Linked DNA regions of Homo sapiens. The protein of the gene in region 1 interacts with the protein of each later gene in a pairwise test. Each region holds a gene or a part of one and is shown in the gene's direction. Other genes may lie near its edges.

Region 1 (6,913 bases):
AACGCAGTGAGACCTTATCTCTAAAATAAATAAATAAACAAATAAACACTAGCTGGGCACGGTGGCACATGCCTGTAGTCCCAGCTACTTGGGAGACTGAGGTGGGAGGATCTGCTTGAGCCAGGGGGGTCAAGGCTGCAGTGAGTTGTGATTGGGCCACTGCACTCTAGCCTGGGTGAGAGTGAAACCATGTCTCAAACAAAAACAAAAACAAAAACCAGCTATAAAAGACACCTGGAAGCCAGGTACAGTGGCTCATACCTGTAATCCCAGCATTTTGGGAGGCTGAGGCAGGTTGATCACCTGAGCCCAGGAGTTTGAGACCATCCTGGGCAACATAGTGAGACCCCATCTCTACAAACAATTAAAAAATTGTCTCTGCTACTTGAGAGGCTGAGGTGAAAGAATCGCTTAAGCCCAGGAGGTTGAGGCTGTGGTGAGCCATGTTCATGCCACTGCATTTCAACTGGGTGACAAAGAACCCATCTCTAAAAAAAGTAAAAAATAAAACTAAAAGACACCGGGAACTATTTGGGGAAATCTGAATTTGGAATGGATGTTAATAACATTGGGGGATTATGTTATTTTATTTGTTTATTTAAAGACAGTCTTGCTCTGTCACCTAGGCTGGAGTGCAGTGCTGCAATCTTGGCTCACTGCAACCTCCACTTCCCTGACTCAAGTGATCTTCCCACCTCAGCCTCCCAATTAGCTGGGATTACAGGTAAGCACCACCATGCCCAGCTAATTTTTGTATTTTTGGTAGAGACAAGGTTTCACCATGTTGCCCAGGCTGGTCTTGAACTACTGGGTGCAAGCTATCCACCAGCCTCAGGCTCCCAAACTGATGGGATTACAAGTGCGAACCAACATGGCAGGCCAGATTATAGTTATTTTTGTGAAATATGATAAACTTATTGTGGTTGTGTAGAAAAAGGCCTTTTTTAAGGGGAGATGTATGCAAACATTTAGGAGTGAAATGTCTTGACATTTGTAATATACTTTAAAATAGTTCAGCAAAGAAAAATTGTAAAGCAAAAGATGTTAATTATATGGATGTTATTATGGTATTTTTTCCTGCTTTTCTTGAATAAAGCTGTGTTTCTACATGCACTGTATATGTATGTAAGCAGGACAACTACATGTATGGTGACTATAGCTGGTTAGCTCCAGGGAAGACTAGAATTGGGCAAATGAATAAAAAAGGCAGATCAAACAAGATCGGCAAGAAAACAGAAACACAGCAGAATACATAGATGGTGCACCAACCTTAACATATTCAATGGCTCTTGGAGAAAAATCACAGGCATAGGCAAAGATATTCGGATCTTCTTCTAAAAGTGGGAATAAACAGTTTCCAACCCCACAGCCAGCTTCAAGCATTGTTAACTTTTGATCTTCAAACTGGGGAAAGACAGCTCAAAGTTATAGTATATCACATTTGCATAATGAAGAAATAAACCAAACTAAAAGGTCCAGAATATGAGAGGTCTCCGACCCCATGGAGCAGACGATCAACAAGAGAACTAATAAGCAAAAGCTAATACTGGTACTTCATTTGTCATCCAACATTAACAATTTGGTGTGGAGGAAAAAAACAGCACAATGGCTAACTCGGCTCTGGAGTTAAACTGCCAGCACCCAAATCTCAACTCCTCCCCTGCATTCTATCCTTGGGTAAATCACTTAAACAGCTCTGTGCCTCAATTTTACCTTGGGGACAAATGAGTACAATACTAATACTTACACTTCACAGAGCCGGTATAAGGGTCAAATGATAGGCCATGTAGAAAACAGCCATGGTAAATAGTTACTAACATTAACTATTATATTATTCTGAATCTGTCACTGAAGTCACTTAGCATGAATTTATATTTTTGTTTTTAAAATTTTTAATGTTTAAAATTTTAAAATTCAGAACATAGGGTCTCACTATGCTGCCTAGGCTTGGCTAATTCATGTTGACTATTCACAGGCACAAGCCGCCTGCCTCAGCCTCTGGAGTAGCTGGCAATAGCCACCAGACCTGGCTCTTGAATTTAATATATAATGTTTACAACTATCAGATCAGCTTAAAGAAATAGAAAACACCCACTAAAGTTCTCTCTCCTATATGTTAACCAAACCAGAAACTGCTAAAACTTTGGTGTTAAGACCAAACAGTATATTTCTCTCCTAAAACGCAAAGCATTTTGATAGGCTTCTTAAATTCTCTACTTCGCACTCTCCCTAGGAATGCAATACAGCACACCTCTTCACATTTTTTTTTCTTTTGAGACAGAGTCTCGTTCTGTCACCAGGCTGGAGTGCAGTGGCACAATCTCGGCTCACTGCTATCTCCGCCTCCCGGGTTCAAGCGATTCTCCTGCCTCAGCCTTCCAAGTAGCTGGGACTACAGGCGAGCACCACCACACCCAGCTAATTTTTGTATTTTTAGTAAAGACGGGGTTTCATCATGTTGGCCAGGATGGTCTCGATCTCTTGACTTCGTGATCCGCCTGCCTTGGCCTCCCCAAGTACTGGGATTACAGGCATGAGCCATGGCACCCTCTTCACATTTTAAATGAAGAACAGCTCAGATAAGGCGTAATATTAGCTTACCTCTCTACATGATCTTAGCTCCTCAAACTCTCTGGTGGTCCAGTGTCTGTCTTTGAAGAAATTAGTGCTATTTCTTTTGTAAAAAAGATCCCAATTTTTCTGAGCCTCTTGTTCCAATTTCTGCTGTTTAAAATCAGACACCAAAGTTTGGTCTCTTTTCAGTTTCTCCTCTTCTTCAGAGGTGAGAATCCTTGCCTGCAGCCCTTTCCTTTGCAAAGAAGCCATCTCTGAAACTGACGGTAACACTTAACACAGCTGAAGATTCTCCATCACCAAATAATATGAATCCACGCTAATGGATCAGATACATTTCCTGAGGTGAGTTTCACGCCTCAAACAGCACAGGGGGCTTCGCAGAGAAAAGAATTAGATTCTGGTTAGTGGTTACAGTTCAAGACGCCAGGTTCAATTCACCAAATGTTTATGAGATGCAGACTGTACAAAAAAAAATCCTTCCCGCTATATGAGAGGTCACAAAGAAGACAAACACACAGTCCCTACCTTCAGTGGGCTTACATTCATTTCAGTGGCCAGACTATCTCATGCACCATACTTTTATTCAAACCAGATGAGTCAACTATTACAATAAATCGATTTAGTTTACGAAAAAGGACGCTCTCAAGAACTGACTGGGAAACCTTGCGAAGAAAATATTCCTCAATTTTCGGTGCCCGCGAAAGGGGTGACTTAAAAACCACAATGGCCTTAGCTGGAAGCGGGTGGTCAATTGTCAGATACAAGTGAGGTCATCGTTTCCCAAGGGTCGGACCTCCGTTTTTTCGGGGGAAATGAAGCTAAGCCTGGGTGGGCTCATTTCCTGATCACACTCACAAGAGGCTGTCATAGGAACCAGAGGGAGCGTCACTTTGCAGGGACTGAGACCCTCGCACCGCCATCACCGGGCAAAGTGGAGAAAGAGACCCAATGACGCGTGGCTGAGGTCCCGAGGATCCATCTCAGGACCCTCAGGATAGACTAGGCTGCATGGGCCCCTAGACCCTGAGGAGGGCGTCCATGATGGCTAGCCGACCCGCGTTAATTTAGTCAGCCACGCTCAGGGCTCACCGTCATCAGTTCCTAAATTCACCTGCAGGGCTAGGGCCAGGCGCACTCACCCCACAGCCAGCCCCACTGGGCCTCGGAGGCAGAATACGGGAAGAACCGCGAAACAACCCTAAACCAATTCTGAGGACCACGAATTCGGATTATCCGGGAGTTCTTTTGCCATGGCACCGCCCCCGCCACTTCCGCTAGGAACCCGGAAGTTCCTACCCGACGCCGGAAGTCCCACGGCCTTGCCTCCTCAGATTCCTCTCTCACCCCCACGCAGAGGAGAGAACTTGCTTCTGGACCCGGGTGGGTGCCGGCTCGGCTCTCCTTGTCTTCCAGAGCGGTGGCCCGGAAGCACAGTCCTCCCAGACGCCAGCGCCAGAAGCTCGGATCGCGGCTGCACCGGGAGAGCGCCGATCTGGGTGCGAGGCAGGTGCGGGGCCATGAATGGGACCGCAAACCCGCTGCTGGACCGCGAGGAACATTGCCTGAGGCTCGGGGAGAGCTTCGAGAAGCGGCCGCGGGCCTCCTTCCACACTATTCGTTGTAAGTCAGCGCTCCCCACGGTTCCCTTCGGCCGCTCCAGCCGCCACATATCAACCTTGACTCCTTCCTTTCTTCCCTCGGCCCTTCAGATTCCAGGGAACCCCCTGCCAGCGTCAGTTACTTTCTCTCGAACCCCAAATCCTTTGGGACATCGATTTGTCCCTTCTTTTACCCAGATTATTTCTCCCAAATCTTCGTCACTCCCTACTATTCTTCTACCTCACAGTCTCAAACACTAGTTCCAAAGGTCTTTGGCCTCTTTCCATTTCCATCCCTCCCCGCCCCCAACCTCGCCCCTAAGGCAAACCTCCCTCCCCCAAGGCAAACCTCCCCCCTCTTATCCGGGTCCACTTCTCCCTCGAAACCCCTCCCCTCCTTTCCGATGCTCCCATCAGGGTTCTCCACATTTAAAAGACGCTTCTTGTTTGTTATGAGCCTCATCCACTGCCTTAGAACCCATTCTCTTCCCTGCTTTTCTCCTCCGACTTGGTCCTGGACTCCCAAATACTGTGCTTTGTCCCCTCTACAGCCAAAGAATTGGCATCCTCTCTGCGCCTCATCAGAGTCTTCTTCCATCTCCTTTCTGTGCTTCATTTGACTTGGATGTCTTTTGAGGTCACCTATACCACCCGGGCTTTTCCTCCAGACCAAGTTCCTTGTGGGTAAAGAGTCAAATCAGAGTTCGTGAGCCTGGGATAGGTTAAAGATTGGTCTACGTTTGGAAGCAGAAGAGAGCAGGCGTAAGGAATGTCCAAATAGTCATTATGCCGGACCTTTTTCTACATAATTATAGACGCTGTTGAGAGAGTGCACTTCCACCCTATGTCCTGGGTGAAGGTTTGGCAGTTAGGAATTGGCTGACAGAGCATCCCTCCGTGATTCATGAACTTCTGGTTTCCGTGGTGCTAACGCTGTTGTTAAGACTTGTTTTTGTCAGAGGACCTAATAGATGTGACTCAACACATGTGAAGAGGGCGTTTTAGATAATGAAATCCCATCTTTGTGTAGTCACTTGCCATGCCATTGCTATGCTTCCTACTGACAGCAGATCCAGCTCTTTCAGAGAGAAGAGATGGGAATAAGATAAGAACATCATTTCCTGAAGAGTTTACTAAGTTGATGTTTTCTTTTGGTGAAGGGCAATGTGGAATTTAAATCATATAGTTCATGTGTGCACCTGTCCTGCAGTTTGAGGCAGGTGTGAATGTGAATTAAGATGGCTATTATGTTGTATTCTAACTGCAGTTTAGAAACACGAGCAGGATAACTTGCGGAGATACAGTTCAGTTGTCTGCTATGAACATCTACGAAGTGTCTTTGTTAAAGCTGTGGAACTGGCTGAGAGTGGTGGCTGACACTATAATCCCAGTACTTTGGGAGGCCGAGGTCGACAGATAGCTTGAGCCCAGGAGTTTGAGACCAGCCTGGGCAGCATAGTGAGACCCCATCACTATTAAAAAAAAAAAAAAACAAAAAACAGCTATGGAACTTGAGTATGGCAAATCCTAATTTTGACAGTTTCTATGCGGAATGAAATCAGCTTTTGATGATGCTGTGGCCTTTCATATTTCATATAGAGTTTACAGTCACAGAATCTGTTTCATATGCTGTTACTTTTGATCCTCACAACCCTAAAAAAGCAACTTATTATGGATGATGAGACAATTTTCCTCTCTCCCTTGGGAGAAGGGAATATCTTTGTTTAATAAAATGGCCTGTAAATTCTTTTTTCCCTCTAGAATAATCAAAAGGGGGTCAGAGGAAAAGTATGTGGAGGTGTAGATGAAACAAGATTGTCCCTGAGTTGGTAATAATTGAAACTGGATAATGGTATACCAGGTCTCATTGTACGATTCTCTCTACTTTTGTGTATCTGAAGTTTTCCATAACGAAACAGTTTTTTAAGAATTCTAAATTATTTTTATTTTCCATTCATCTGAGTAATAATTTTAATTCTTAAATGGAGATGCCCAGGAAACCCTTATTATAAGTAACCTGGTGGGTAAGTGCTTTTTTTCCTTTCCCTTTAGATGATTTTAAACCAGCATCTATAGACACTTCCTGTGAAGGAGAGCTTCAAGTTGGCAAAGGAGATGAAGTCACAATTACACTGCCACATATCCCTGTGAGTTTATTTCATTTTTTTTTTTAATGTAAGATCACAATGAATCTTTGTCTTTTATATTATTGCAATTTAAACTTCCTACTTTTAAAAATGTTTAGATTTCTAAAGTGGCAACTTAAGGAAAAAAGTAATTTTGGGGAGTGGGGTGGGGTGGACTTCATGCTAGGCAGGTGCTTGATTAAAAATAATTCTTGTAATCCTAGCATTTTGGGAGGTGGAAGTGGGTGGATAGCTTGAGTTCAGGAGTTAAAGACCAGCCTGGGCAACATGGTGAAACCCCGTCTGTACCAAAAATACAAAAAATTAGCTGGGGGTGATGGCACATGTCTGTGGTTGCAGCTGCTTGGGAAGCGGAGCTGGGAGGATCGCTTGAGCCTGGGAGGTAGAGGTTGCAGTAAACCAAGATCACGCCACTGCACTCCAGCCTGGGCGACAGAGTGAGACTCCCCCTCAAAAAAAAAAAAAAAAAGATTATTCGTCGTTTTCCCCAATCTTCCTTTTCCCCCATCTGCTACTGAGTAGACAAGGTTCCTGTCTGGACACCTAGCCCCTCTTTTAGATATAGCTTTTCTCCCAAGCAACTCCAGACAG
Region 2 (6,911 bases), on another chromosome or scaffold:
AAGGATTACTGTAGTCAAGCAAAGTGCTATGAGACTGACTTGAAAATTTAAAAAATAGCTTTATCCATCATATCTATGTTCATTAATCTCATGTCTAGCCCAGTCTAGAATGCTTCCTTGCATATGACTGCTGGAAAGCTACTCTAAGATGCTTCCCTAGCAATTCAAACTCATTCTATCAAAACTGAACTTACTTATTCACCAATTTCTTTAATACCATCAACACTTTCCTCTTTCTCAACTAGTTATTTACCAGATTTTGCAAACTATTTCCTACTTCTTCAAGCTACCCTTTTCCATCTATCGTGCTTTACCACATACATTTTATTATTTATTTATTTATTTATTTATTTTTTGAGACAGGGTCTAACTCTGTCACCCAGGCTAGAGTGCAGTGGTACAATCTCAGCTCACTGCAACCTCCACCTCCTGGTTCAAGTGATTCTCATGCTTCAGCTTCCTGAGTAGCTGGGATTACAGACATGTGCCACCATGCCTGGCTATTTTTTGTATTTTTAGTAGAGACGGTGGGGGGAGGTCCCACCATGTTGGATAGGGTGGTCTCCAACTCCTAGCCTCAAGTGATCCACCCACCTCAGCCTCCCAAAGTGCTGGGGTTACAGGCATGAGCCACAGAGCCCAGCCTTTTTATCGTTTTTCAATTAGATTAACTAGTCTTGCAAACTTGAGAATTTTGATTCTGAAACGTATTTCTAAATTGATGAATGAAAGTGTAAATCTAATCTCATCACTCCTGTTTTAACTTTCAAAATTCATTGACTATAGAATCAAGTCCAAGGTACTTAATTAGGAGATCATTTATATTGCCTGGCATGGTGACTCATGCATGTAATCCGAGCACTTTGGGAGGCCAAAGTGGGAGGACTGCTTGAGGCCAGGACTTTGATACCAGCCCCAGCAACATAGTGAGTCCCCAACTCTATTTTTAAAAAAGACCTTTCATAATCTCTCCAACTTCATTTCCCACCACTTTCCATGTTAAATTTTATACTGTGATATTAAATTGCTTATAGCTCCTTACAGTATCTCACTCCCATATTGATTCCTTTATAAGGAATTCTGTTTTCTCTGCACCTCCACCCTCACCTCTTCACCTTGCTAAGTCTTATTCATACTACAGGAGGCATTATCTCCTTCAGATTTTCCTGACTCTGTCTTCCTCATCCCCTGAACTCCCCTCTCCCAAAGCCATTTCTCAGTTTACACAGTGTGATGGTTAATTTTGTCAACTTGGCTGGGCCATGGTGCACAGATATTTGGTGAAACGTTATCCTGGATGCTTCTGTGAAGGTGTTTTTTTGATGAGATTACCATTTAAATCACCAGACTTTGAATACAACAGATTACATTCCATGTATGTCCAACTACAATTCTTTTCTGAGGCTTGCCCGCCTCTTCCCTCAGATTTTGGACTCACTAAAAGTCCACAACTGCATGAGCCATTTCCTTACAATAAATCACTGTCCCTCTCTCTATGTAGTCTCTGTGTATACACACATATCCTGTTTGTTCTGTTTCTCTGGAGAACCCTGATTAATACATATGGTATTCTCAGCTACTTGTGTGCCTAATTGTTATTCATTATTTTATTTGCAGAACTGATCAGTGTGTGACACACTGCAGAAGCCTAATATTTATAGACTTGAGAATATTAATGATCTGACATTAACAGACTTGATAATATTAATAATATGACATTCTTTTTCTCCCTGTAACGAAAGAGTGGTTCATTTTCTTCTTCTCATCTTCATCCATATTTCTGTAAAAGTCCAGCTTGTATGAGGTATGAGGACATAGACAATATCTTTGATAATCATTTTGAGAAAAGAAAAAAGCTCTAATTTATCTCTTTCATTTCTTATAGACAGGCAACTGTTAGAACAATAGAAAATGAAGAAATGGATATGTTGGTTATGGTGGTGGTGGAGGGGAGTAGGGGAAAACTTACCTGTTGTGGTATCAAAAGTTTAGGGAAAGAACATTAATGAGTTACTTCAGGTATGTTAGGGAAAAAGGAAAAAGAATAGGGAGAATTAGTCCTAATGTTTGAACTCACTGCATAAAACAGAGAGAGAGAGAGAGAAAATCAGCTTACTAAAAGGAAAGAAAATATGAGGTTTCTCTTTATGCCAGAGACTGTAAGCACCCAGATAATGGGCTTTAAAAAAAGGAGGAAATGAACTTTACTCAATGAAAAATATTATAATTTTTCTCTAAATTTATTCTACTAATTCATTACATGGTTTGAATGTTCTCATTGTGGTAGTCACTATCCTGTTTTATTTATTATTTCCTAGCCAGGAAAATCAACTTTTTCCTTTGTTTTACACATAATTTGATTTGGCCCTAAGCCTTTGCACAAGCTATATACTTCCTGATTGGAGTATTTGCTCTGATAAACTGTACACTCTTTGTTTTTGTCTCATAGATTTTTATGGTACTTTATGTTCATAAATATGATTCAAATCCTGACTGAAGTAAAGCAAAAAAGAAAAAAGCATTTCAAAGCTGAATCTGTAACAAACTTCTTGAGAACACTGTTCATTACAGCATACATAACGAAAATTTGGTGAATATTATAACCTCTGTTGTTCCAAGTTAATCTACGTCCAACTTTTCCATTTTGTTAGTTTTCACAGCGTCATGCTCTGTCCCCCAGGCTGGGGTGCAGTGGCGCCAGCCATCGTAGCTTATTTCAGTCTCCACCTCTGGGGCTCAAGCGATTCTCCCACCTCATCCTCCCTAGTAGCTGGGACTACGGGTATGCACCATCATGCCCAGCTAATTTTTTTGATTTTTAATAAAGTCAAGGTCTCGCCATGTTGTCCAGGCTGGTCTCGAACTCCTGGGCTCAAGCGATCCCACTGCCTCAGCCTTCCAAAGTGTTGGGACTACAGGCGTAAGCCACCGCGCCCGGCCTTTTTCAGTTTTTTAAACTCTCTTTTGTACACTTACTAAAGGATAAGTTCCTTTCATTAACTTTAACCACAAATTTAGGAACCCGTCAGCACCTCATATTATGCCTATTCTCTGGGGTGTATTAAAAAATATTATTGCTTATTACTCAGCACCCAGAAGAGTACCTGGCACATGGTATGTGGTCACTAAGTATTTGGTGTCTGAAGGAATCATGAGTAACAGGAGTTAAAGTGACATTTATAAAACCAATTCTGAACTATGGAACAAAAAACCCAAATTTAAATTACTAGCAGTTAATTATACCATTCTTAGTTCACGGAGGTAGGCCAATTGAAAACTTTGGACATTTTTAAATTCTGTAAGGTTTAACATTTTTTCTTAGAGGATTCACATATCGTAATCTCATCCAGCACTTCAGTCAAAAAAAAAAAAAAAAAAAAAAGTCACCAGCTCCAAGGTTTTAGTGTGAAACGTTCTTTGGCCAGGATCTAGATAGTACTTTTGCTCACTCAACCGGAGCCCGATCTGGTGCCATTTTCACTTGACCGCCGCTTCGAAACACGTCCCTCCCACCTCTCATCCCAAACCACACACAAAGAAGGAAAGCACAATTTCGACAGGTCTTGGGAAAACTCGACGAGGCCAAGTATGAGGCCACAAGACACCGTTTTTAGTTCCGCGTTCTCCCTCTTCTAATCCTATTAGGTTTTGTCCAGACAACGTTTTGCTCTTTCAGAAGAGAAAGAGCGTTCTGCGCTCGTCGTCTTGGATTCGACAACCATAAGCATCCCGTTAGGGCAACCACCGCAGCAGACTAAGTTCGACTACTTTCTCTCCAAACTCCTCCCGGGCCTTCTTCCCAAGCTCTCTCTTTCTCCTGGAGGCCCCGCCTCGCGGCCCGGCAGCGCGGCACGCGCATGCCCGGTGCTCGCCGCTTGCGCTCTCCCCTGCGGCGCGCCGCCGCCCCGTAGGCCCCACGCGCCGCCCCGCTCCTCCGCCGGATCGTCTGTGGGTGAGTCTCGAGCCAGGAGGCTCTGAGCCAGTGGCGATTGGCTGACGCGGTGGCTGCGCACTCGGCCTGAGAAACTCGGCAAGCGCGCAGTGTCGACTCCCCGGTCTATGCCAGGCGCATCTCAGGTAAACGGTTGGGCAGGGAGGTTTGGGCGACGGAGAATGATAGTGGTGGGCACAGATCAGCCCTGGAGTTTTCGGCCGCAGACTTTTCCTTGGAGAAGGAGAAGGGGCCCCGCGGAATCTGTACTTAGTGAATGCTGACCCCGCGTGGCCGGGAGTGATGGGGCTCTCTCGAAGGTCAGTGTCGTGGGGTCCTCAGGTGGCAGACAGCTCTTTCTGGGTATGGTTTTGGTATTGTCTCCAGTTTCCTAATACTGGACCTGAGCAGCTGAGCATTTATTCAAGGGTGTATTTTTTTTGTTTTTTTCCCCTTAAGTCGCGGTTAGTCAGAAGGTTCCAGTCCTCGCTCAACCTCTGATCGACTCTGTGCCCATGAGAGAGTCGTTTTATATTTCATTTCTCACACGTGGAAGTGTGGGCGAAGAATGAGGGGCTTCTTTAAGCGCGCTAAGCCATGCTGTAAAAAGATACTGTTAGAATTTTTTTTTTTCTTTTTTGATTCACAATGTCCCTGGACCTGGTGCAACGTTTGGGAAGCATTTTAAGCTCTATGGATGGAGGGAACAAGACAGCCGCATTATTAGACAAGGATGGTAGAAAGGAACAACTTTCCACAAACACACGCGTTTGGAAAAGCTCCTTTGAGCATTTTATGCAGGTTAAATCACAGTGGTAGTAGATAGAAATAAGCCAAAACAAAGGGCCAAACAAAACTACATTTCAAGGAGGTGTTCTTTTCTTCCCCAGATAACTTGAATATACTATCACAAATTATTGGCGTTTCAAAGTTTTTCCTTGTGATCTGGTATGGAGTTCATCTAAAATGACAATTACATAATCATTCTATGCAATCGTATGCCAATAAAATTAATTAAAACAGTTTAATTTTTAATGTGAGGAATAGGAATCAAGACATGTCATTGATGGGAGGTAATGATGGCAATCAGCAAAATGAATGGGAGATGTATACAATTTTCCTTCAAAGGAGTAGAGTTTATAGAGATATTTTTATTGCGTTAATATTTAAAGTATAAAGACATACAGAAAAGTGCATGAATCGTAAGTGTACAGCTCGGTGAATTTTCACAAAGTGTAAATACCCATGTATCCAGTATCTAGATCAGGAAAGAGCATTATTGCATCCCGGAAGCCCCACTTCATGGTTCCAAAGGTAATCATTATCTGGACTTCCAACATTATCAATGAATTTCACCTATTATTTACTTTATATAAATGGAGTAATATGGTATTTAGTCCTTAGTTTCTGATTTTTGCTCAATATTTTATTTGTGAGATTTATTCAAGTTATGTAGCAGTTTGTTATTCTCATGCTGTATGTATAGTATTTCTAGTTTTTGGCTATTACCAATAGGGCTGCTATAAAGATTTTTAGAAATATTTTGATGAAATTATGTATACTTTTTTTTTTCTTCTTTTTTTTGAGATGGAGTCTCGCTCTGCCGCCAAGGCTGGAGTGCAGTGGCGCGATCTCGGCTTACTGCAACCTCCGCCTCCCGGGATCAAGCAATTCTCCTGTCTCAGCCTCCCGAGTAGCTGGGACTACAGGTGCCTACCACCACGCCTGGCTAAGTTTTGTATTTTTAGTAAAGACGGGGTTTCACCTTGTTGGTCAGGCTGGTCTCAAACTCCTGACCTCAGCTGATCCACCTGCCTCAGCATCCCAGAGTGCTGGGATTACAGGTGTGAACCATCGCGCCTGGCCATATGTACATTTTTATTGCGTATATGCCTACTAGAAAATTACTGTGTTACAGGATAGGCAGATGTGTGTTTGTGGTATACACTACTGAAAAGTTTTTCATATTGTGTCAATTTATACTTCAGTGGCAGCTTGAGAATTCTGGTTCCTCCAAATGCTTGCAACATTTCACACTGTCTTTTTCATTTTAGCCATTCTAGTAGGAATATAGTGACATAACATTGGGGTTTTCCCATAATTTCCCTAATGACTGATGGTATTGAACACATATTCATGTGTTTACTGGCATTTGGATATCCTCTATTTCTGTAAGGGACCAGACAATAAGTGTAGGCAGCCCTCGCTTTGTAGAGTTTCAGCTAACCAAGTAATGTGTGAAGCTCGGACTACCTGTATTTTAGGTTGTACAGGCTGTACAGTCTCTGTTACACATTCTTTTCTGTTTTTTTCCTCTTTACTTTGTTCCCAACCCTTTAAATATGTAAAAACAATTCTTAGCTCATGGGTTATACAAAAACAGTTGTTAAAAGATAACTTTAGGCACATGGAAATTTTAGAGTTTATATGAGCATTCAGCAATTTCATAAATTGGGTATCACCAGACCACAAGTTATTCAAGACTCCACCAAGAGGGTGTGAGGGGAAAACTTTTATAAGGTGTTTATGGAAACAGAAAATATTTGATTGGTAACAGTGGAATGTCTCTAGTTAGAAGTTGTTTGGTGGTTTCTGATTGATTAAACTCAAGTTTAGTTTTACTGTTTACATTGAGTTGGGTTTTGGTTTGTTTACATAGGAACCCAAAGTGCTGGAGCTGTCTCAACCTAATGGTTTCCCAGTTAGTTTTTTTTTTTTTTTTTTTTTTTAACACAGTCCTCTGGCTGGATTTGAGTTGTGGGCCATAGCGTACTAACCCCTGCTCTATTGAAAAATGTTTGTTCAATTTTTTGCCAATTGGTTGGATGTGAAATCAGTAACTGAGATGGGCTATATTAGAGAAATATAGATCCATAATACTATATCTATCTATGTGTGTGTGTGTGTGTGTGTGTGTGTGTGTGTGTGTGTGTGTGTGTGTATTTTTTTTTTTTTTTTTTTTGAGACAAGGTGTACCTCT
Region 3 (6,626 bases), on another chromosome or scaffold:
CTCTTGACCTCAGGTGATCCCCCTGCCTCGGCCTCCCAAAGTGCTGGGACTACCGCATCCGGCCTTTGATCTTAACAGTATACATAGAATGTATTCTGTTGTTAACAGAGTTGGTTTCAATATTGTAAAGACGTACCATACAATTAATACAGAGTAATCAAATTGTGGAAATATAAAAAAGAAAAACAAGTATTAAACTGTAGTTCTGAGAAGTAGTTATGGCCTTAAGTGTTAGAATAATTTTCTCAGTAAGATGCTGCCTTTTTAATTTTTAAGTTCTCATATATAAAATTATTTAATTTTTTTAGGTACATCCATAAACCTACCAATCCTGATGAACCTCCAGTTGCTGAACAGCCCAAACCACTGTACCCATATCGAACAATTGGTTGTGTTTTCAACCATCAGATGTTCCTGGGAAATTGTCAACCCTCTGATGCAGTAGAAACCTGTGTATTTGATTTGAACGATGAATCCAAATGGAAACCCATGAGTGAGGAAGCAATTAAATCTGTGTGTGCTCCTGGAGCTACAACATCCCTTCCTCCCTTTCCACCTCTGTGTGCATCCACAATTGACGCGTCAGTAACAAGTAATGAAATTGAAATGCAGCTGAGGCTCCTGGTGTCAGAACACAGGAAGGTAATTCACACTGAAATAGTTGTAGTTTCATACTTCTTTTCATTTATGTATTTAACTGTTTTTTGGTGTGTGTGATAGTGCCAGTCACTATTCTAGCCCTGAACAAAACAACTACAGTCCCTACTATTATGAAGCTTATAATTTTGAAAGTCATGAGAGTTCAAGTTCTGAGACTCAAAAATCTTCAAATTAATTAATACTTATAGAATGAATTACTTCCTCCTAGAAATGAAGAATGGTGAACTTGTTCACATCCCTTAGAGTCAAGATTTTTGCTGAATACCACTATTTGGATTTTGTCTTTGTGAAATGCTTATTCACATATTTGCCCCTTAAAAAATCCTGGGTTAGGCTGGGCTTGATGGCTCATGCCTATAACCCCAGCACTTTGGGAGGCTGAGGTGGGTGGATCGCTTGAGCCCAGGAGTTCAAGACCAGCCTGGGGAATATGGTGAAACATCATCTCTATTATTTTTTAAAGAAAAAATATGTATACTGGGTTATACTTTTTTCATATTCATTTTTCTCCCCAGGTTGGTTTCTGTTTGTTTTCATGTTGTACTCAACTGGGTAGACGTCTGGCTTTAATTTGCATTTCCCTGATTACTTTTGAGATCAAACCTCTTTTTTTTTTTTTTTTTTTTTTTTTTGAGATGGAATCTCTCGCTCTGTCACCCAGGCTGGAGCGCAGTGGCGTGATCTTGGCACAGTGGCGTGATCTTGGTTCACTGCAACCTCTACCTCCCAGGTTTAAGCAATTCTCCTGCCTCAGCCTCCTGAATAACTGGGATTATAGACATGTGCTACCACGCTGCCAGTTTTTGTATTTTTTGTAGAGATAGGGTTTCACCATGTTGGCCAGGCTGATCTCGAAGTGATCTACCTGCCTCAGCCTCCCAAAGTGCTGGGATTACAGTTGTGAGCCACTGCGCCCAGCCAGATCAAGCCTCTTGTCAAATAGCATGTAGATTTCCTTTGTAAAGTGCTTTTAAGAAGACATAAAAAGTATTAGTCATAAAGGAAAAGATTAATGTATCTTAAAGACTTAAGCTCATCAAGAGAAGACATTAAGAGATTGAAGCTGTGGGGTGGGAAAAGTTGTTTGTAACACATATCACCAACAAAGGACTAGAATCCAAAATGCCTACAAAATATTTCTGATTCACCTTTTAGGGTTCCCTGTTCCACTCCTCACCTTGGGTGAGCCCTGTTTTCTGTGTTCTTTGGGGCTATCAAAGGCAAACTGATTTATCAAACATGTTCTCTGGGTTCCCAGTTACTCTTAGCTTTGGCCTCTAAATATTTCTTATTCACTTGTCAACTTATCAAAGCATTTAAACATACATTTTGGAAAACCTGGCATTTGTAATATGTTTTCAGCAAAAGTTGGTCAGGGGACCTCTGGTCCATTATATTGCTGGAAATGAATGCCCCTTATTACTTTTTCTTTCCTTCCATCACTTGTATTGGCTTTAGCTTTCTTTTCTTAGGTTCTGCTTACAAATAAAAGCAATATCTTATAAAAATTACTTTTGGCCAGGCACAGTGTCTCACGCCTGTAATCCCAGCAGTTTGGGAGGCTGAGATGGGTGGATTGCTTGAGCTCAGGAGTTCAAGACCAGCCTGGGCAACGTGGTGAGACCCTATCTCTACAAAAAGTACAAAAATTAGCCGGGTGTGGTGGTGCATGCCTGTAGTCCCAGATACTCGGAGGCTGAGGTGAAAGGAGCCGGGGAGGCAGAGGTTGCAGTGAGCCGAGATTGTGCCACTGCACTCCAGCCTGGGTGACAGAGTAAGACCCTGTCTCAAAAAAAAAAAAAAAAAAAAAAGGAATTACTGTTTACAGAAAAAGAAAACAAAGCTGTGATAGATGCCAGTGTTGATCACTATTTAAGTTAAGGTGCCTGTAAATCAGCAAAAGTTCACATTTTGCCGCAGGAAAAGCATTGTTAATCGTGGATCTTTGAGACCATTTGTGATGAGTTAAAACCTTGAATATAAAATGAGGAAATACCAAAGATCCATTATGATAATCAAAATATCTAGAATTTTGAGAATTTTTTGTATTTGTAATATTATTATTTTTAACTTCATGTGTCCAGATATCAATAGGTCTTTTGGTGTTATAAATGGAATCATGGGCTGGGCACGGTGGCTTATGCCTGTAATCCCAGCACTTTGGGAGGCCGAGGTGGGTGGATCACTTGAGGTCAGGAGTTTGAGACCAGCCTGGCCAACATGGTGAAAGCCCGTCTCTACTAAAAATACAAAAATTAGCCGGGCATGGTGGCAGGTGTCTGTAGTCCCAGCTACTCAGGAGTCTGAGGCAGGAGAATCGCTTGAACCTGGGAGGCAGAGGTTGCAGTGAGCCGAGATCGCGCCACTGCATTCCAGCCTGGGCAACAGAGTAAGACTCTGTCTCAAAAAATTTAAAAAAATAAAAAATAAATGGAATCATGTTGTTTTTAACATTCCATAGAAATATGTTTTAAGCTCCCTAAGGGCCTATAAAATGTCTTCATCTTTTTATCTCTTACAGTATATAAGTTTTATAGAGTACATGTTCAGTAAATATTTGTTTAATCACATAGAATTAATTTGTTGACTTTTCTCACCTCTGTAGTTGAGTTTATGGTAGGAAGAGTCAGTCTTTAGTAAACAGATTCATTCTTACTAAACTCTTTTTTATTTATTTTATTTATTTATTTTTTTTGAGACAGAGTCTCGCTCTGTTGCCCAGGCTGGAGTGCAGTGGCACGATCTCGGCTCACTGCAAGCTCTGCCTCCCGGATTCATACCATTCTCCTGCCTCAGCCTCCCAAGTAGCTGGGACTACATGCACCCGCCACCACGCCCAACTCATTTTTTGTATTTTTAGTAGATACAGGGTTTCACCTTGTTAGCCAGGATGGTCTCAATCTCCTGACCTCATGATCCGCCCACCTCAGCCTCCCAAACTGCTGGGATTACAGGCGTGAGCCACCGCACCCGGCCTAAACTCTTTAAAGTTAAGTAAAATATCTCAAAATATAAGAATTATACCTGTCCTCCATATTAGGACTATTTCATATAGTATTTTGTAGTAGATATTAGAGAAGTACAGGATTTGGAGACTTTGTGAACATTGTTTTGAATGTTTTTTGGTTGTTTCTCTAAAAAGTAAAATCTGATCACCTATAGTTCCTTTTATCTGATTTTTATTTCTATGTATCCCTATAATTATTATTATTAAAATATTATGATAGCTTTTAAAAATCTTTTCTTGGTATACATTAAAATAATCAACATTTTTATTTAGTTGGTTTTAAAAATATTAATGTATTTCACTTTTTCTTTTTCTCTTGATTGCTCATAGGATCTTGGCCTCACTACTGTTTGGGAAGACCAGCTCTCCTACCTTTTATCACCAGCTTTGGCTTCTTATGAATTTGAGCGTACAACAAGTATATCAGCAGGCAATGAAGAATTTCAAGATGCCATAAGAAGGGCTGTACCTGATGGTCACACATTTAAAGGGTTCCCAATACATTTTGTGTATAGAAATGCAAGACGTGCATTTGCCACATGTCTTCGGTAAGGTGTAATTTACGGAATCATTTTTTCAGTTTAGGAGTCTTACAGATCAGTCCGGCAGGGGTTTTTTTAATTTCCTTTTTTTTTTTTTTTTAACTCAAGGTCTTGCTCTGCTGCCCATGCTGGAGTACAGTGGCACAGTTATGGCTCACTGTAGCCTTGACCTCCTGGGCCCAAGTGACCCTTCCACCTCACCCTCCCAGGCAACTGGGACCACAGGCATGTGCCACCATACCTGGCTATTTTTTTTATCTTTATTTTGTAGAGATGGGGGTCTTCCTATGTTGCCCAGGCTGGTCTTGAACTCCTGGGCTCAAGCAGTCTTCCCACCTCAGCCTCCCAAATTGCTGGGATTACAGGTGTGAGCCGTTGCACCCAGCCTAATCTGGTAGTTATTTAGAAATGACATCCAAGTCATATGGGAGCTTTTACAATGACTGACCCTCCTTGCCACAGATTTTGATTCATTTGGTCTGAAATGTAGCCCTAGATAGTCTGGGATTATTTGCCCAGTGATTTTGGTGCAGTCTCAGGTATCTCTGATTTTGTTTGGACTATAAGGAAATAGTCTATAATTTGAATAGCTTGACCAAAATTACAGTGTCTTTGATAGCAGAGACAGAATTTGAAAAAATTATTTTATTTATTTATTTTTGAGATGGAGTCTCAGTCTGTCGCCCAGGCTGTAGTGCAGTGGCACATTCTTGGCTCACTGCAACCTCTGCCTCCTGGATTCAAGCGATTCTCCTGCCTCAGCCTCCCAAGTAGCTGGGATTACAGACGCCCGCCACCACACGCGGCTAATTTTTGTAATTTTTAGTAGAGGCGGGGTTTCACTATGTTGGCCAAGCTGGTCTTGAACTCCTGACCTCAGGTGATCCACCTGTCTCGGCCTCCCAAAGTGCTGGGATTACAGGCATGAGCCACCACGCCTAGCCTGAAAAAATTATTTTAAATACTGATTTACTTGCAAATAAGGAATTAAAGTGTATGGTCACTTCTTAATTGAATAATTTTTTTTTTCTTAAATAGATCTCCTTTCTGTGAAGAAATAATCTGTTGCCGTGGAGACCAAGTGCGACTGGCAGTTCGTGTCCGAGTATTTACTTACCCTGAATCTGCATGTGCTGTTTGGATCATGTTTGCTTGTAAATATCGCTCGGTATTATAGGGCCAATATTTATATAAGATTTATACCTGTGTTTAATTGGAATTTTACACATTGTACATTACTTAGCTATTTAGAGGTTTGTTATTTTAAAATCACAATCTGGCTTGAATGGCATACTTCAATTTTGTATATACTTGACTGGTAATGTTTAAAAAAAATCATGCATTCCTTTAAAAATTAAGGCTGAAAAACTTGTATAAATCTCCCTGGAATTTAGTATAAATTAAGTGTATATTCTATTTTAATAAATGCTACTTTGTTTACAGTTATCAGTAGTTTAAATATTAATATAAAATGCATTCAGTTTTCTTTACACAAACAGGTAATCAAAGAGATGTTTGTCTAAGGGTTTGAGCCCTAGACAAATCAGTATGATCATTACTTTTCACAGGTTAATGGAATTATTTTATACAGATTAGGAGAAATTAACCTCATGACAGATTTATTTATTGCATTGGTGAAAATAAATGTTAATGAATTACCACTTTTGTGGTTTATTCGTGGTCCTTGGGATATTTGAGACTGTCCAGAAATTTATGGTTGGACCTTGAAGCAAGAGTAGGAAAAAACTAATACCAGAAAAGCATAAATATTAATAACCTCATATGAAAGTACATGAATCATTTAGAAATATTTATCACTGTGATTTGTTGTAAAAATGAATTGGGTATTTTAGAAAAACTTTATTATACCTCTTTGTTATGATACTGATAAATTGTGATCTTGCAGTCGATCACTGATTTTCTGTGGTCAGAGGATTCATTATTAGCCTCTTCATGGATTCTATCTTCTGAAACCCTTTTTTCTTTCATTGTGATAAAAAAATCAGCATATATGTGACTAATCTAAATAAGAGATTGATTGTGTGAGACCACTGAAAACAAGCATATGTGAGTGATTCCATACTGATTTTTGTTTTAAAATTGAGCACGTTTTAAAAATTTTGTAAGGCTCGGCGTAGTGGTTTATGCCTGTAATCCCAGCACTTTGGGAGGCCGAGGTGGGTGGATCACTTGAGGTCAGGAGTTCGTGACCAGCCTGGGCAACATGGTGAAACCCTGTCTCTACTAAAAATACGAAAATTAGGCCGGGTGCGGTGGCTCACACCTGTAATCCCAGCTACTCAGGAGGCTGAGGCAGGAGAATCGCTTGAACCTGGGAGGCAGAGGTTGCAGTGAGGTGAGATCGCGCCACTGCACTCCAGCATGGGAGGCAGAGCGAGACTGCATCTCAGAAAAAA
Region 4 (7,550 bases), on another chromosome or scaffold:
ACGCTTTTCATCCCGGATACTCGAGAAGCTGAGGTGGGCAGATTGCTTGAGCCTGGGAGGTCGAGGCTTCAGTGAGCCGAAGTCACACCACTGCGCTCCAGCGTGGGTGACAGAGTAAGAACCCTGTCTCAAAAAAAAATAAAAAAGCTAAGGGGATGCCAAATACCTAAGTCATCAGGATAAACACTATTTTGATGCAATCTACTTTTATTTTTTGAGATGGAGTCTCCCTCTGTCGCCCAGGGTGGAATGCGATGGCGCTAACTGAAGAATCTTGCTCTAAAACCTCCTGTGGCTCCCTAGTGCCCTCCAGGTAAAATCCCAGCTCCTCAGCCCAGCAGCACGTGCTGCCATCGTGTCCCGGCCAGAAGCCACACTGCAGAGTGCTCAAAGGCCCAAGGTCAAGATCAAAGGCCTGGGATAACATCGTGGTTCTGCCCCCTACCCACTTGGCCAAGTCACTTCACTTCTCTGTGACTCACTTTCCCCATTTTTTTTCGTTTTCTTTTTTTTTATTTTTTATTTTTGGAGACAGAGTCTCATTCTGTCGCCCAGGCTGGAGTGCAGTGGCACGATCTCGGCTCACTGAAACCTCCGCCTTCCGGGTTCAAGCGCTTCTCCTGCCTCAGCCTCCAGAGTAGCTGGGATTACAGGCGCCCACCACCACGCCTTAATTTTTGTATTTTTAGTAGAGACGGGGTTTCGCCATGTTGGCCAGGCTAGTATCAAACTCCTGATCCTCAAGTGATCTGCTTGCCTCGGCCTCCTAAAGTGCTGGGATGACAGGCCTGAGCCACCCTGCCGGCCTGTTTTCCCCCCATCTCTAAAATGGGTGTGACAACTGTACCTAAAGGTTAAAGTGCTTAAGGCAGCCCCTGGTGCGGAGCAAAAACATACAGACCTGTGTGGCTTGGTTGATTATTTATAGTGTGGGCCACCATTCTGGGCTGCCTTCTATGCAGAAAAAAAACCTATTTTCTAAAAACGATGATTTCACAATGACTCTCTCCTTCACAGGCCTAGGTCCCTGTGGGTGGCCCAGCCCTCACCTCACCGTGCTCAAGGTATCTGTGTCCAGTTCTGCTTCCCCTGACAGTGTGGGGGCTTCGAAAATGGGGCTGTTTGGTCACTGGGCGGGCACACTGATACCGGAAGGCGCCTGCCTAAATAAACACTGGCAGGTGGCCTCCCAGGAGAGGGGGTGTCTGGTCCCCACGGCAGTGGGGGTGGGGTGGCAGGGGTGCTAGCGGCAGGACTGGCTTCAGGGGCAGTCTAGGAACGCAGTCTCTCAGGGCCCTGCAGGAAAAACAAGGGTGTTGCGGTTGGTTGAAGGCTTGGCTGTTACTAAGTAGTATTAATCTCTGTTTCTTTGTTTCTTTTTTTTTTGAGACAGAGTTTCGCTCTTGTCGCCCAGGCTGGAGTGCAGTGGCACAATCTTGGCTCACCGCAACCTCCACCTCCCAGGTTCAAGCAATTCTCCTGCCTCAGCCTCCCAAGTGGCTAGGATTACAGGCGTGAGCCACCATGCCAGGCTAATTTTGTATTTTTAGTAGAGACGGAGTTTCTCCATGTTGGTCAGGCTGGTCTCAAGCTCCTCACCTCAGGTGATCCGCCTGCCTCGGCCTCCCAAAGCGCTGAGATTACAGGTGTGAGCCACCACACCCGGCCACCAAGTAGTAGTAATCTTAAAAATCCAAAATCCTAATCCTTTCTAGCCTCATCTTTTTTTTTTTTTTTTTTTTGAGACAGAGTCTCACTCTGTCACCCAGGCTGGAGTACAGTGGCGCGATCTTGGCTCACTGCAACCACCACCTCCCAGCTTCCAGCGATTCTCCTGCCTCAGCCTCCAAGTAGCTGGAATTAGAGGCGCCCGCCAAAACACCCCGGTAATTTTTGTATTTGTAGTAGTGACGAGGTTTCACCATGTTGGCCAGGCTGGTCTCGAACTCCTGAGCTTGTGATCCACTGGCCTCGGCTTCCCAAAGTGCTGGGACTACAGGCATGAGCCACTGCTCCCGGCTTACAAAAAATGTTAAAATTAGCTGGGCATGGTGGTGCACTCCTGTAGTCCCAGCTACTCAGGATGCTGAGGTCGGAGGATCACTTGAGCCCAGGAGTGGGAGGCTGCAGTGAGCTATGATTGCACCACTGCACTCTAGCCTATGCAACAGAGGACTGTGTCTGAAAAAATTTTTTTAGGCCGGGTGTGGTGGCTCGCGCCTGTAATCCCAGGACTTTGGGAGGCCGAGGCAGGCAGATCACGAGGTCAGGAGATCGAGACCATCCTGGCTAACACAGTGAAACTCCGTCTCTACTAAAAATACAAAAAATTAGCCGGGCGTGGTGGTGGGCGCCTGTAGCCCCAGCTACTCGGGAGGCTGAGGCAGGAGAATGGCATAAACCCGGGAGGTGGAGCTTGCAGTGAGCCGAGATGGCACCACTGCACTCCAGCCTGGGCCACACAGTGAGACTCCACCTCAAAAAAAAAATTTTTTTTTAATAAAAATATTAAAACACTGCTTTAAAGATTATTAATCTTGATCACTGAAGGCTATCACCCTTACCTGCCAAGGTAAGGAGCCTGGGGTTCCAAGTCTATTTTACAGATGGGAACACCCAAGGCCCAAATCAATTGCATTCATTCAAGGGAGCAGGCTGCCTAGTGGATGACGATGATGAAGAGACTGTGTTTCGCACCTGCCAAAGGGGGACCTTAATGTCATAGCCTTATTTCAGTAGCCTCTTTGGGACCTGTTCTCTGCGTGGCAGAGAGAGGGATCCTTTAATAACCGCCACCAGGTCCCATCCCTCCTCTTCCCACGGCTCTCCAGGATTCCCACCTCACTCAGAGCAAAAGCCCAAGTCCAGGGCCAGGCGCAGTGGCTCACACCTGTAATCCCTGCACTCTGGGAGGTGGAGGCGGGAGGATCACCTGATGTCAGGATTTCAAGACCAGTCTGGCCAATATGGTGAAACCTGTCTCTACTAAATATACAAAAATTAGCCAGGCGTGGTGATGCGCACCTGTAATCCCAGCTACTCAGGAGGCAGAGGCAGGAGAATCACTTGAATCCGGGTGGCAGAGGCTGCAGTCAGCCAACATCACATCACTGCACTCCAGCCTGGGCAACAGAGTGAGACTCCATCTCAAAAACAAACAAACAGCTGATCACGGTGGCTCACGCCTGTAATCCCAGCACTTTGGGAGGCCGAGGCGGGCAGATCATCTGAGGTCGGGAGTTCAAGACCAGCCTGACCAACATGGAGAAACCCCGTCTCTACTAAAACTCCAAAATTAGCGGGGCGTGGTGGCACGTGCCTGTAATCCAGCTACTCGGGAGGCTGAGGCAGGAATCACTTGAACCCAGGATGCGGTGAGCTGAGATTGTGCCATTGTACTCCAGCCTGGGCAACAAGAGCGAAACTCCATCTCAAAAAACAAACCAACCAACCACCAGGTCCCGTCCCTCCTCCTCCCACAGCCTTCCAGGGCTCCTACCTCACTCAGAGCAAAATCCCAAGTCCTCCCCAAGACCCACAAGTCCTTGCTGGACTGGCCTGCTTCACCAGCTACAGAGTTAGCAGGGCCCAGTGCAAAAGAAAACTCAAAGGCCCCTTGTTCAAAAATGATTAGAAATCTCAAAATGCAGCAGTAAATATTAACCCAAGCACAAGCCCTGCTGTGGGGTGGGGGGGCCCTGGACAAAAGCACGAAGCCCCCGGCCCTGCCTCCCTCCGGCCTTCCTGACCTCCCCCCGGGCACTCTGCTGCCAGGCACAGTCCTGCCCCAGGGCCTTTGCACCTGTTGGTCCTGCCTCTGACTACCTCTGTACCCCATCCCCCTGTTCTCCCTCCTTCTTCAGGTCGCTTTAGGGGTGGAGGAAGCCGTCTCTGATCCTCCCTCCCACCTCTTTAACTTTGCACCTTCCTACCCTGCCATTCTCCCGGCTGGTTTTTCTGCAGAACTGTCCCCACCATCTGACCTGCCAGGAATTCAGCTTGTGAATTTGTCTCTGTCTGTCTCCAGGCACCACCACCAGGGCAGGGACCCACCCCCGCCCCGCCCCACCCCAGGGCCCTGGAGCAGCGGGGCCTGGCACACAGTAGGCGTTCTATAAATGTGTCACAAGAATGGCTTCCCTCAGGAAGGCGGCATTACCGCTGCCTTTCTGCAGAAAAGGAAACTAAGGCTCAGCAAGAACCACCGCCCAGCCAGAGCCAAGGTCACAGAGCACGTCCGTGGCACGCGTCCAGGTCGTGCCACAGCAGGGCCGGCGGCTTCGACGCGGGCAGCCGGGTCCCTTTTCTTTGACAGATGGGGAAACCGAGGCCCGGCCGGCTGCCGGGTAGGAGAGGGTGGCGGGGGCCGCTGCCCGGGGCGGGGGCGGGCCGGGCCCAAGGTCACCGCGGCGGGCGGGCCACGGGGAGGCGGGCCGGCGTGGGGATCCGCAGGCCTCCCCGGGCGCGCGCGTCCCCCCCCTCGGCGGCGCGCACGGGGCACGGGCGGCGGCAGGTGGAGCCGAAGCCTCCGCAGCAGCCGAGCCGCGGCCACTGCCGGCGTCGCCGCCATTAGACAATAGCGGTGGGGCCGGGGAGCGGGGAGGCGGGCGGCGGGGAGGGGCGGGGAGGGGCGCCGGGCGCGCAGGAAGCGGGGCCCGGGGCGCGCCGGGGCCGGGCGCGCGGGGAGGGGGCGCAGGAAGCGGGCGAGGCCGGGCGCGGGAGGCGGCGGCGGCCCCGGGAGCTGCCGATCGGCGCCGGGACAAAGGCGCGGCCGCCCGGCGCCCCCAGCAGCCCGAGCCGGGGCGCACAGCCGGGGCGCAGCCCGCGCCCCCCGCCGCGATTGACATGATGTTTCCACAAAGCAGGCATTCGGTAAGCGGGGCCCGTCCGGCCGGCGCCCCCACCCCGGATCCGGGCCCTACGCCCCCGACCCCCGGCTCCCGGCCCCGCGCCCCCCAACCCCCAGGCCCGGTGCCTCCGGCCCGGCGCCCCCCCCAACTCCCCGGCCCTGTCTTCCCTCTCCAGCTCCCAGCCCGGCGCGACCCCCCTCCCCTCCTGCCGCCGGCCCCCGGACACCCCCCCTCCAGTTCCCGATCCACCCCAGCTTCCGGGCCCCGAGCCCCCCCGCCGCAGCTCCCGGCTTGGCGCCCCCCCCCCCCAACCCGCCGGGACAGTCAGGGCCTCGGACGGCCTTGGCCTCGGGCCTGGGGCGCTCCGGAAGCCCCGCGAGGCACCTCTAGCCCGGGGATCCTTTGGGGGCCTGTGGTGGGGGGGGTGATCCGAGGCGCACCCCTCCCGGAAGAGCGTGTCCCCGAGGAAGGGCGCTGGGAATCTGGGGTTGGGCCCCCCCGGAAGATTTCGAGCACCGAGAGAGAGACCCCTCCCCCAAGAGGACTTTGCAGGGAGGAATCGCTGCCCCCCAACTTGGGGAGGGGGCTCCCTAGGGCGCGTTTCTACCCCCCTCGGATGTGCACTCCCTCCCGGCGCTTTGGAGGGCGGTAGAGGGCGCACCCTGCCCCCCATCTAGGGCGGGCCTTAAAACGCACCCCCACTGCCTGGGGGTGGCGGGGGACGGGGCGGCTCCGGGCGCACCCACCCGCTCGGCTTCCCCCGGGAGAGGCGGGGGGCAGGAAGCGCGGGTGGGGTCGCGCCAGGGGCCGTAAACACGGGCCCAGGAAGTGGGGCAGGAGGGGGGGCGCCGCAGCTGCGCGGCCGCTCCCTCCTAGCCGGCCCTTGAGGGGGGTCCAGCCCACGCCTGGGCCTGACCCGGGCCGCCCCATCCCTACAGGGCTCCTCGCACCTACCCCAGCAACTCAAATTCACCACCTCGGACTCCTGCGACCGCATCAAAGACGAATTTCAGCTACTGCAAGCTCAGTACCACAGGTGAGCTGGGGGACTGGGGGTCCCTGCGTCCCGAGAATGTGAGTCCCCCCATTTCTTCTGCGCAGATGGCAAGGCTGAGGCCTGGAGATTGGGAAAATAATATATGCTAGACTCTGACCTAATCACTTGACAAATACTGAATTCATTTATTTTAAACAGCCCCATTTTGTAGAGGAGAAAACCGAGGCACAAAAATAGTTAAATAATTTGCCCAAAGATTCAGCTGTGTGGCTTCAGAGCCCCTCCCTCCTCCCCAATACCCCCAAGTCCCCCATTGGATAAAAGACCTTCCAACAATTGGAGTTACGGCACGGACTCGCCATCCCTCAACCCCCAAAACAGAAACATTCTGCAGCCTGGTCATCTCTCTCTTTGCCCAGTTTTGGAGAAAGGGTTCCCAGCACCCGTCAGATTCTCCAAGGTGCTGCTTCTTTCAGAAATCTGGCGTTTCTGAAGAGCTTGCCACGCTGCGGTATCTAAGGGGAAGGAACTATTTAGTCCTCTTACACTTAAAGAAACTTAAGCCCAGGCCAGGCGTGGTGGCTCATGCCTGTAATCCCAGCACTTTGGGAGGCCGAGGAAGGTGGATCACTTGAGGTCAGGAGTTCGAGACCAGCCTGGCCAACATGGTGAAACCCCGTCTCTACCAAAAATACATAGTTAGCTGGGTGTGGTGGCGGGCGCCTGTAATCCCAGCTACTCGGGTGGCTGAGGCAGGAAACTTGCTTGAACCCGTGAGGCGGAGGTTGCAGTGAGCAGAGATGGAGCCACTGCTCTCCAGCCTGGGTAACAGGGAGACTCTGTCTCAAAAAAAAAAAAAAAAAAAAAAAAGAAAGAAAAAAAGAAACTTAAGCCCAGAGATGTTATGATGTTATTTCCTCGGGGGTGTCCATAGCATTGAGGAAGTGGCAAGGCTGAGGTTTGCACCAGGTCTCTCTCCTGGTTTAAGGATATAGGTTCTCGCCTGCCCTGCTCTGGAGGGGCACGCCGGGCCTGGGAATCTGGAGAAAGTCAGGCTATGCTCAAACCCCCGTTTGGCCTTGGGGCCCTCTCTAAACTGAAGCGTGCCCACCCCAGAAGTGTTCCTGGAAGGATCCTGGATTTCCTCCAAGTAGAAAGGGGAATCTCGATTTTGTTGTTGCTGCTGCAAATATCCCACCTTTTTGGGTACTCCCTGTGTGCTCAAGACCGTTCGTGCCTCCTCGTGCTTCATCCTTCCTGTCGTCCGACTGTCGTACCCATTCTCAAGCTGGGCAAACTGAGACACTGACAGTCGAAGGTGCTGGAGTCAGCTTTCCATGCAGGCCCCAGAAGCTTTTGTGCGGGTTCCTCGATATGAAGGGTTGGATACCGCCTGGTGAGCCCCGGGGCTGACCTGATTCCACAGGGAAGGGATCAGATGGCGGTCACAGTGCTGTGTGACCTCTGCTAAGCCGGAAGCCCTCTCTGAGCTTTGGGGTCTCCATCCGCTGGGCCTGGGCTTCCTGCTGTCCAACGAGGGACCCTACCATATCAGAGGCACACACCGGATGTTCGAGGCGTAACAGCCCCTGGGTGGCCAGACCATCCTATTTTTCAAGAAAGGCCAGAAATGCAGGCTTTGGAGTGAAACTTCTTTTTTATTTTATTTTATTTTTTTGAGACGGAGTCTTGCTCTGTCGCCA

What was found.
Region 2: the proteins of EAF1 (region 1) and MIPOL1 interact in binary tests that used the Homo sapiens proteins (3 or more experiments, as listed by UniProt).
Region 3: the proteins of EAF1 (region 1) and CEP76 interact in binary tests that used the Homo sapiens proteins (3 or more experiments, as listed by UniProt).
Region 4: the proteins of EAF1 (region 1) and TLE5 interact in binary tests that used the Homo sapiens proteins (3 or more experiments, as listed by UniProt).

Annotation. Positions count from the first base shown.
Region 1 is NC_000003.12:15,423,686-15,430,598, forward strand, and holds the start of EAF1 (ELL-associated factor 1), read left to right. Parts: upstream 1-3,912; 5' UTR 3,913-4,094; coding exon 4,095-4,197; intron 4,198-4,636; exon of another isoform or gene 4,637-4,942; intron 4,943-6,227; coding exon 6,228-6,322; intron 6,323-6,913. Other genes in the region: tRNA N(3)-cytidine methyltransferase METTL6, read right to left, coding at 1,270-1,404, 2,602-2,826. UniProt on the Homo sapiens protein: Acts as a transcriptional transactivator of ELL and ELL2 elongation activities.
Region 2 is NC_000014.9:37,194,028-37,200,938, forward strand, and holds the start of MIPOL1 (mirror-image polydactyly gene 1 protein), read left to right. Parts: upstream 1-3,909; 5' UTR 3,910-4,077; intron 4,078-6,911.
Region 3 is NC_000018.10:12,672,125-12,678,750, reverse strand, and holds the end of CEP76 (centrosomal protein of 76 kDa), read left to right. Parts: intron 1-308; coding exon 309-642; intron 643-3,997; coding exon 3,998-4,215; intron 4,216-5,247; coding exon 5,248-5,386; 3' UTR 5,387-6,126; downstream 6,127-6,626. UniProt on the Homo sapiens protein: Centrosomal protein involved in regulation of centriole duplication. Required to limit centriole duplication to once per cell cycle by preventing centriole reduplication.
Region 4 is NC_000019.10:3,059,496-3,067,045, reverse strand, and holds the start of TLE5 (TLE family member 5), read left to right. Parts: upstream 1-4,550; 5' UTR 4,551-4,845; coding exon 4,846-4,872; intron 4,873-5,788; coding exon 5,789-5,886; intron 5,887-7,550. UniProt on the Homo sapiens protein: Transcriptional corepressor. Acts as a dominant repressor towards other family members. Inhibits NF-kappa-B-regulated gene expression. May be required for the initiation and maintenance of the differentiated state.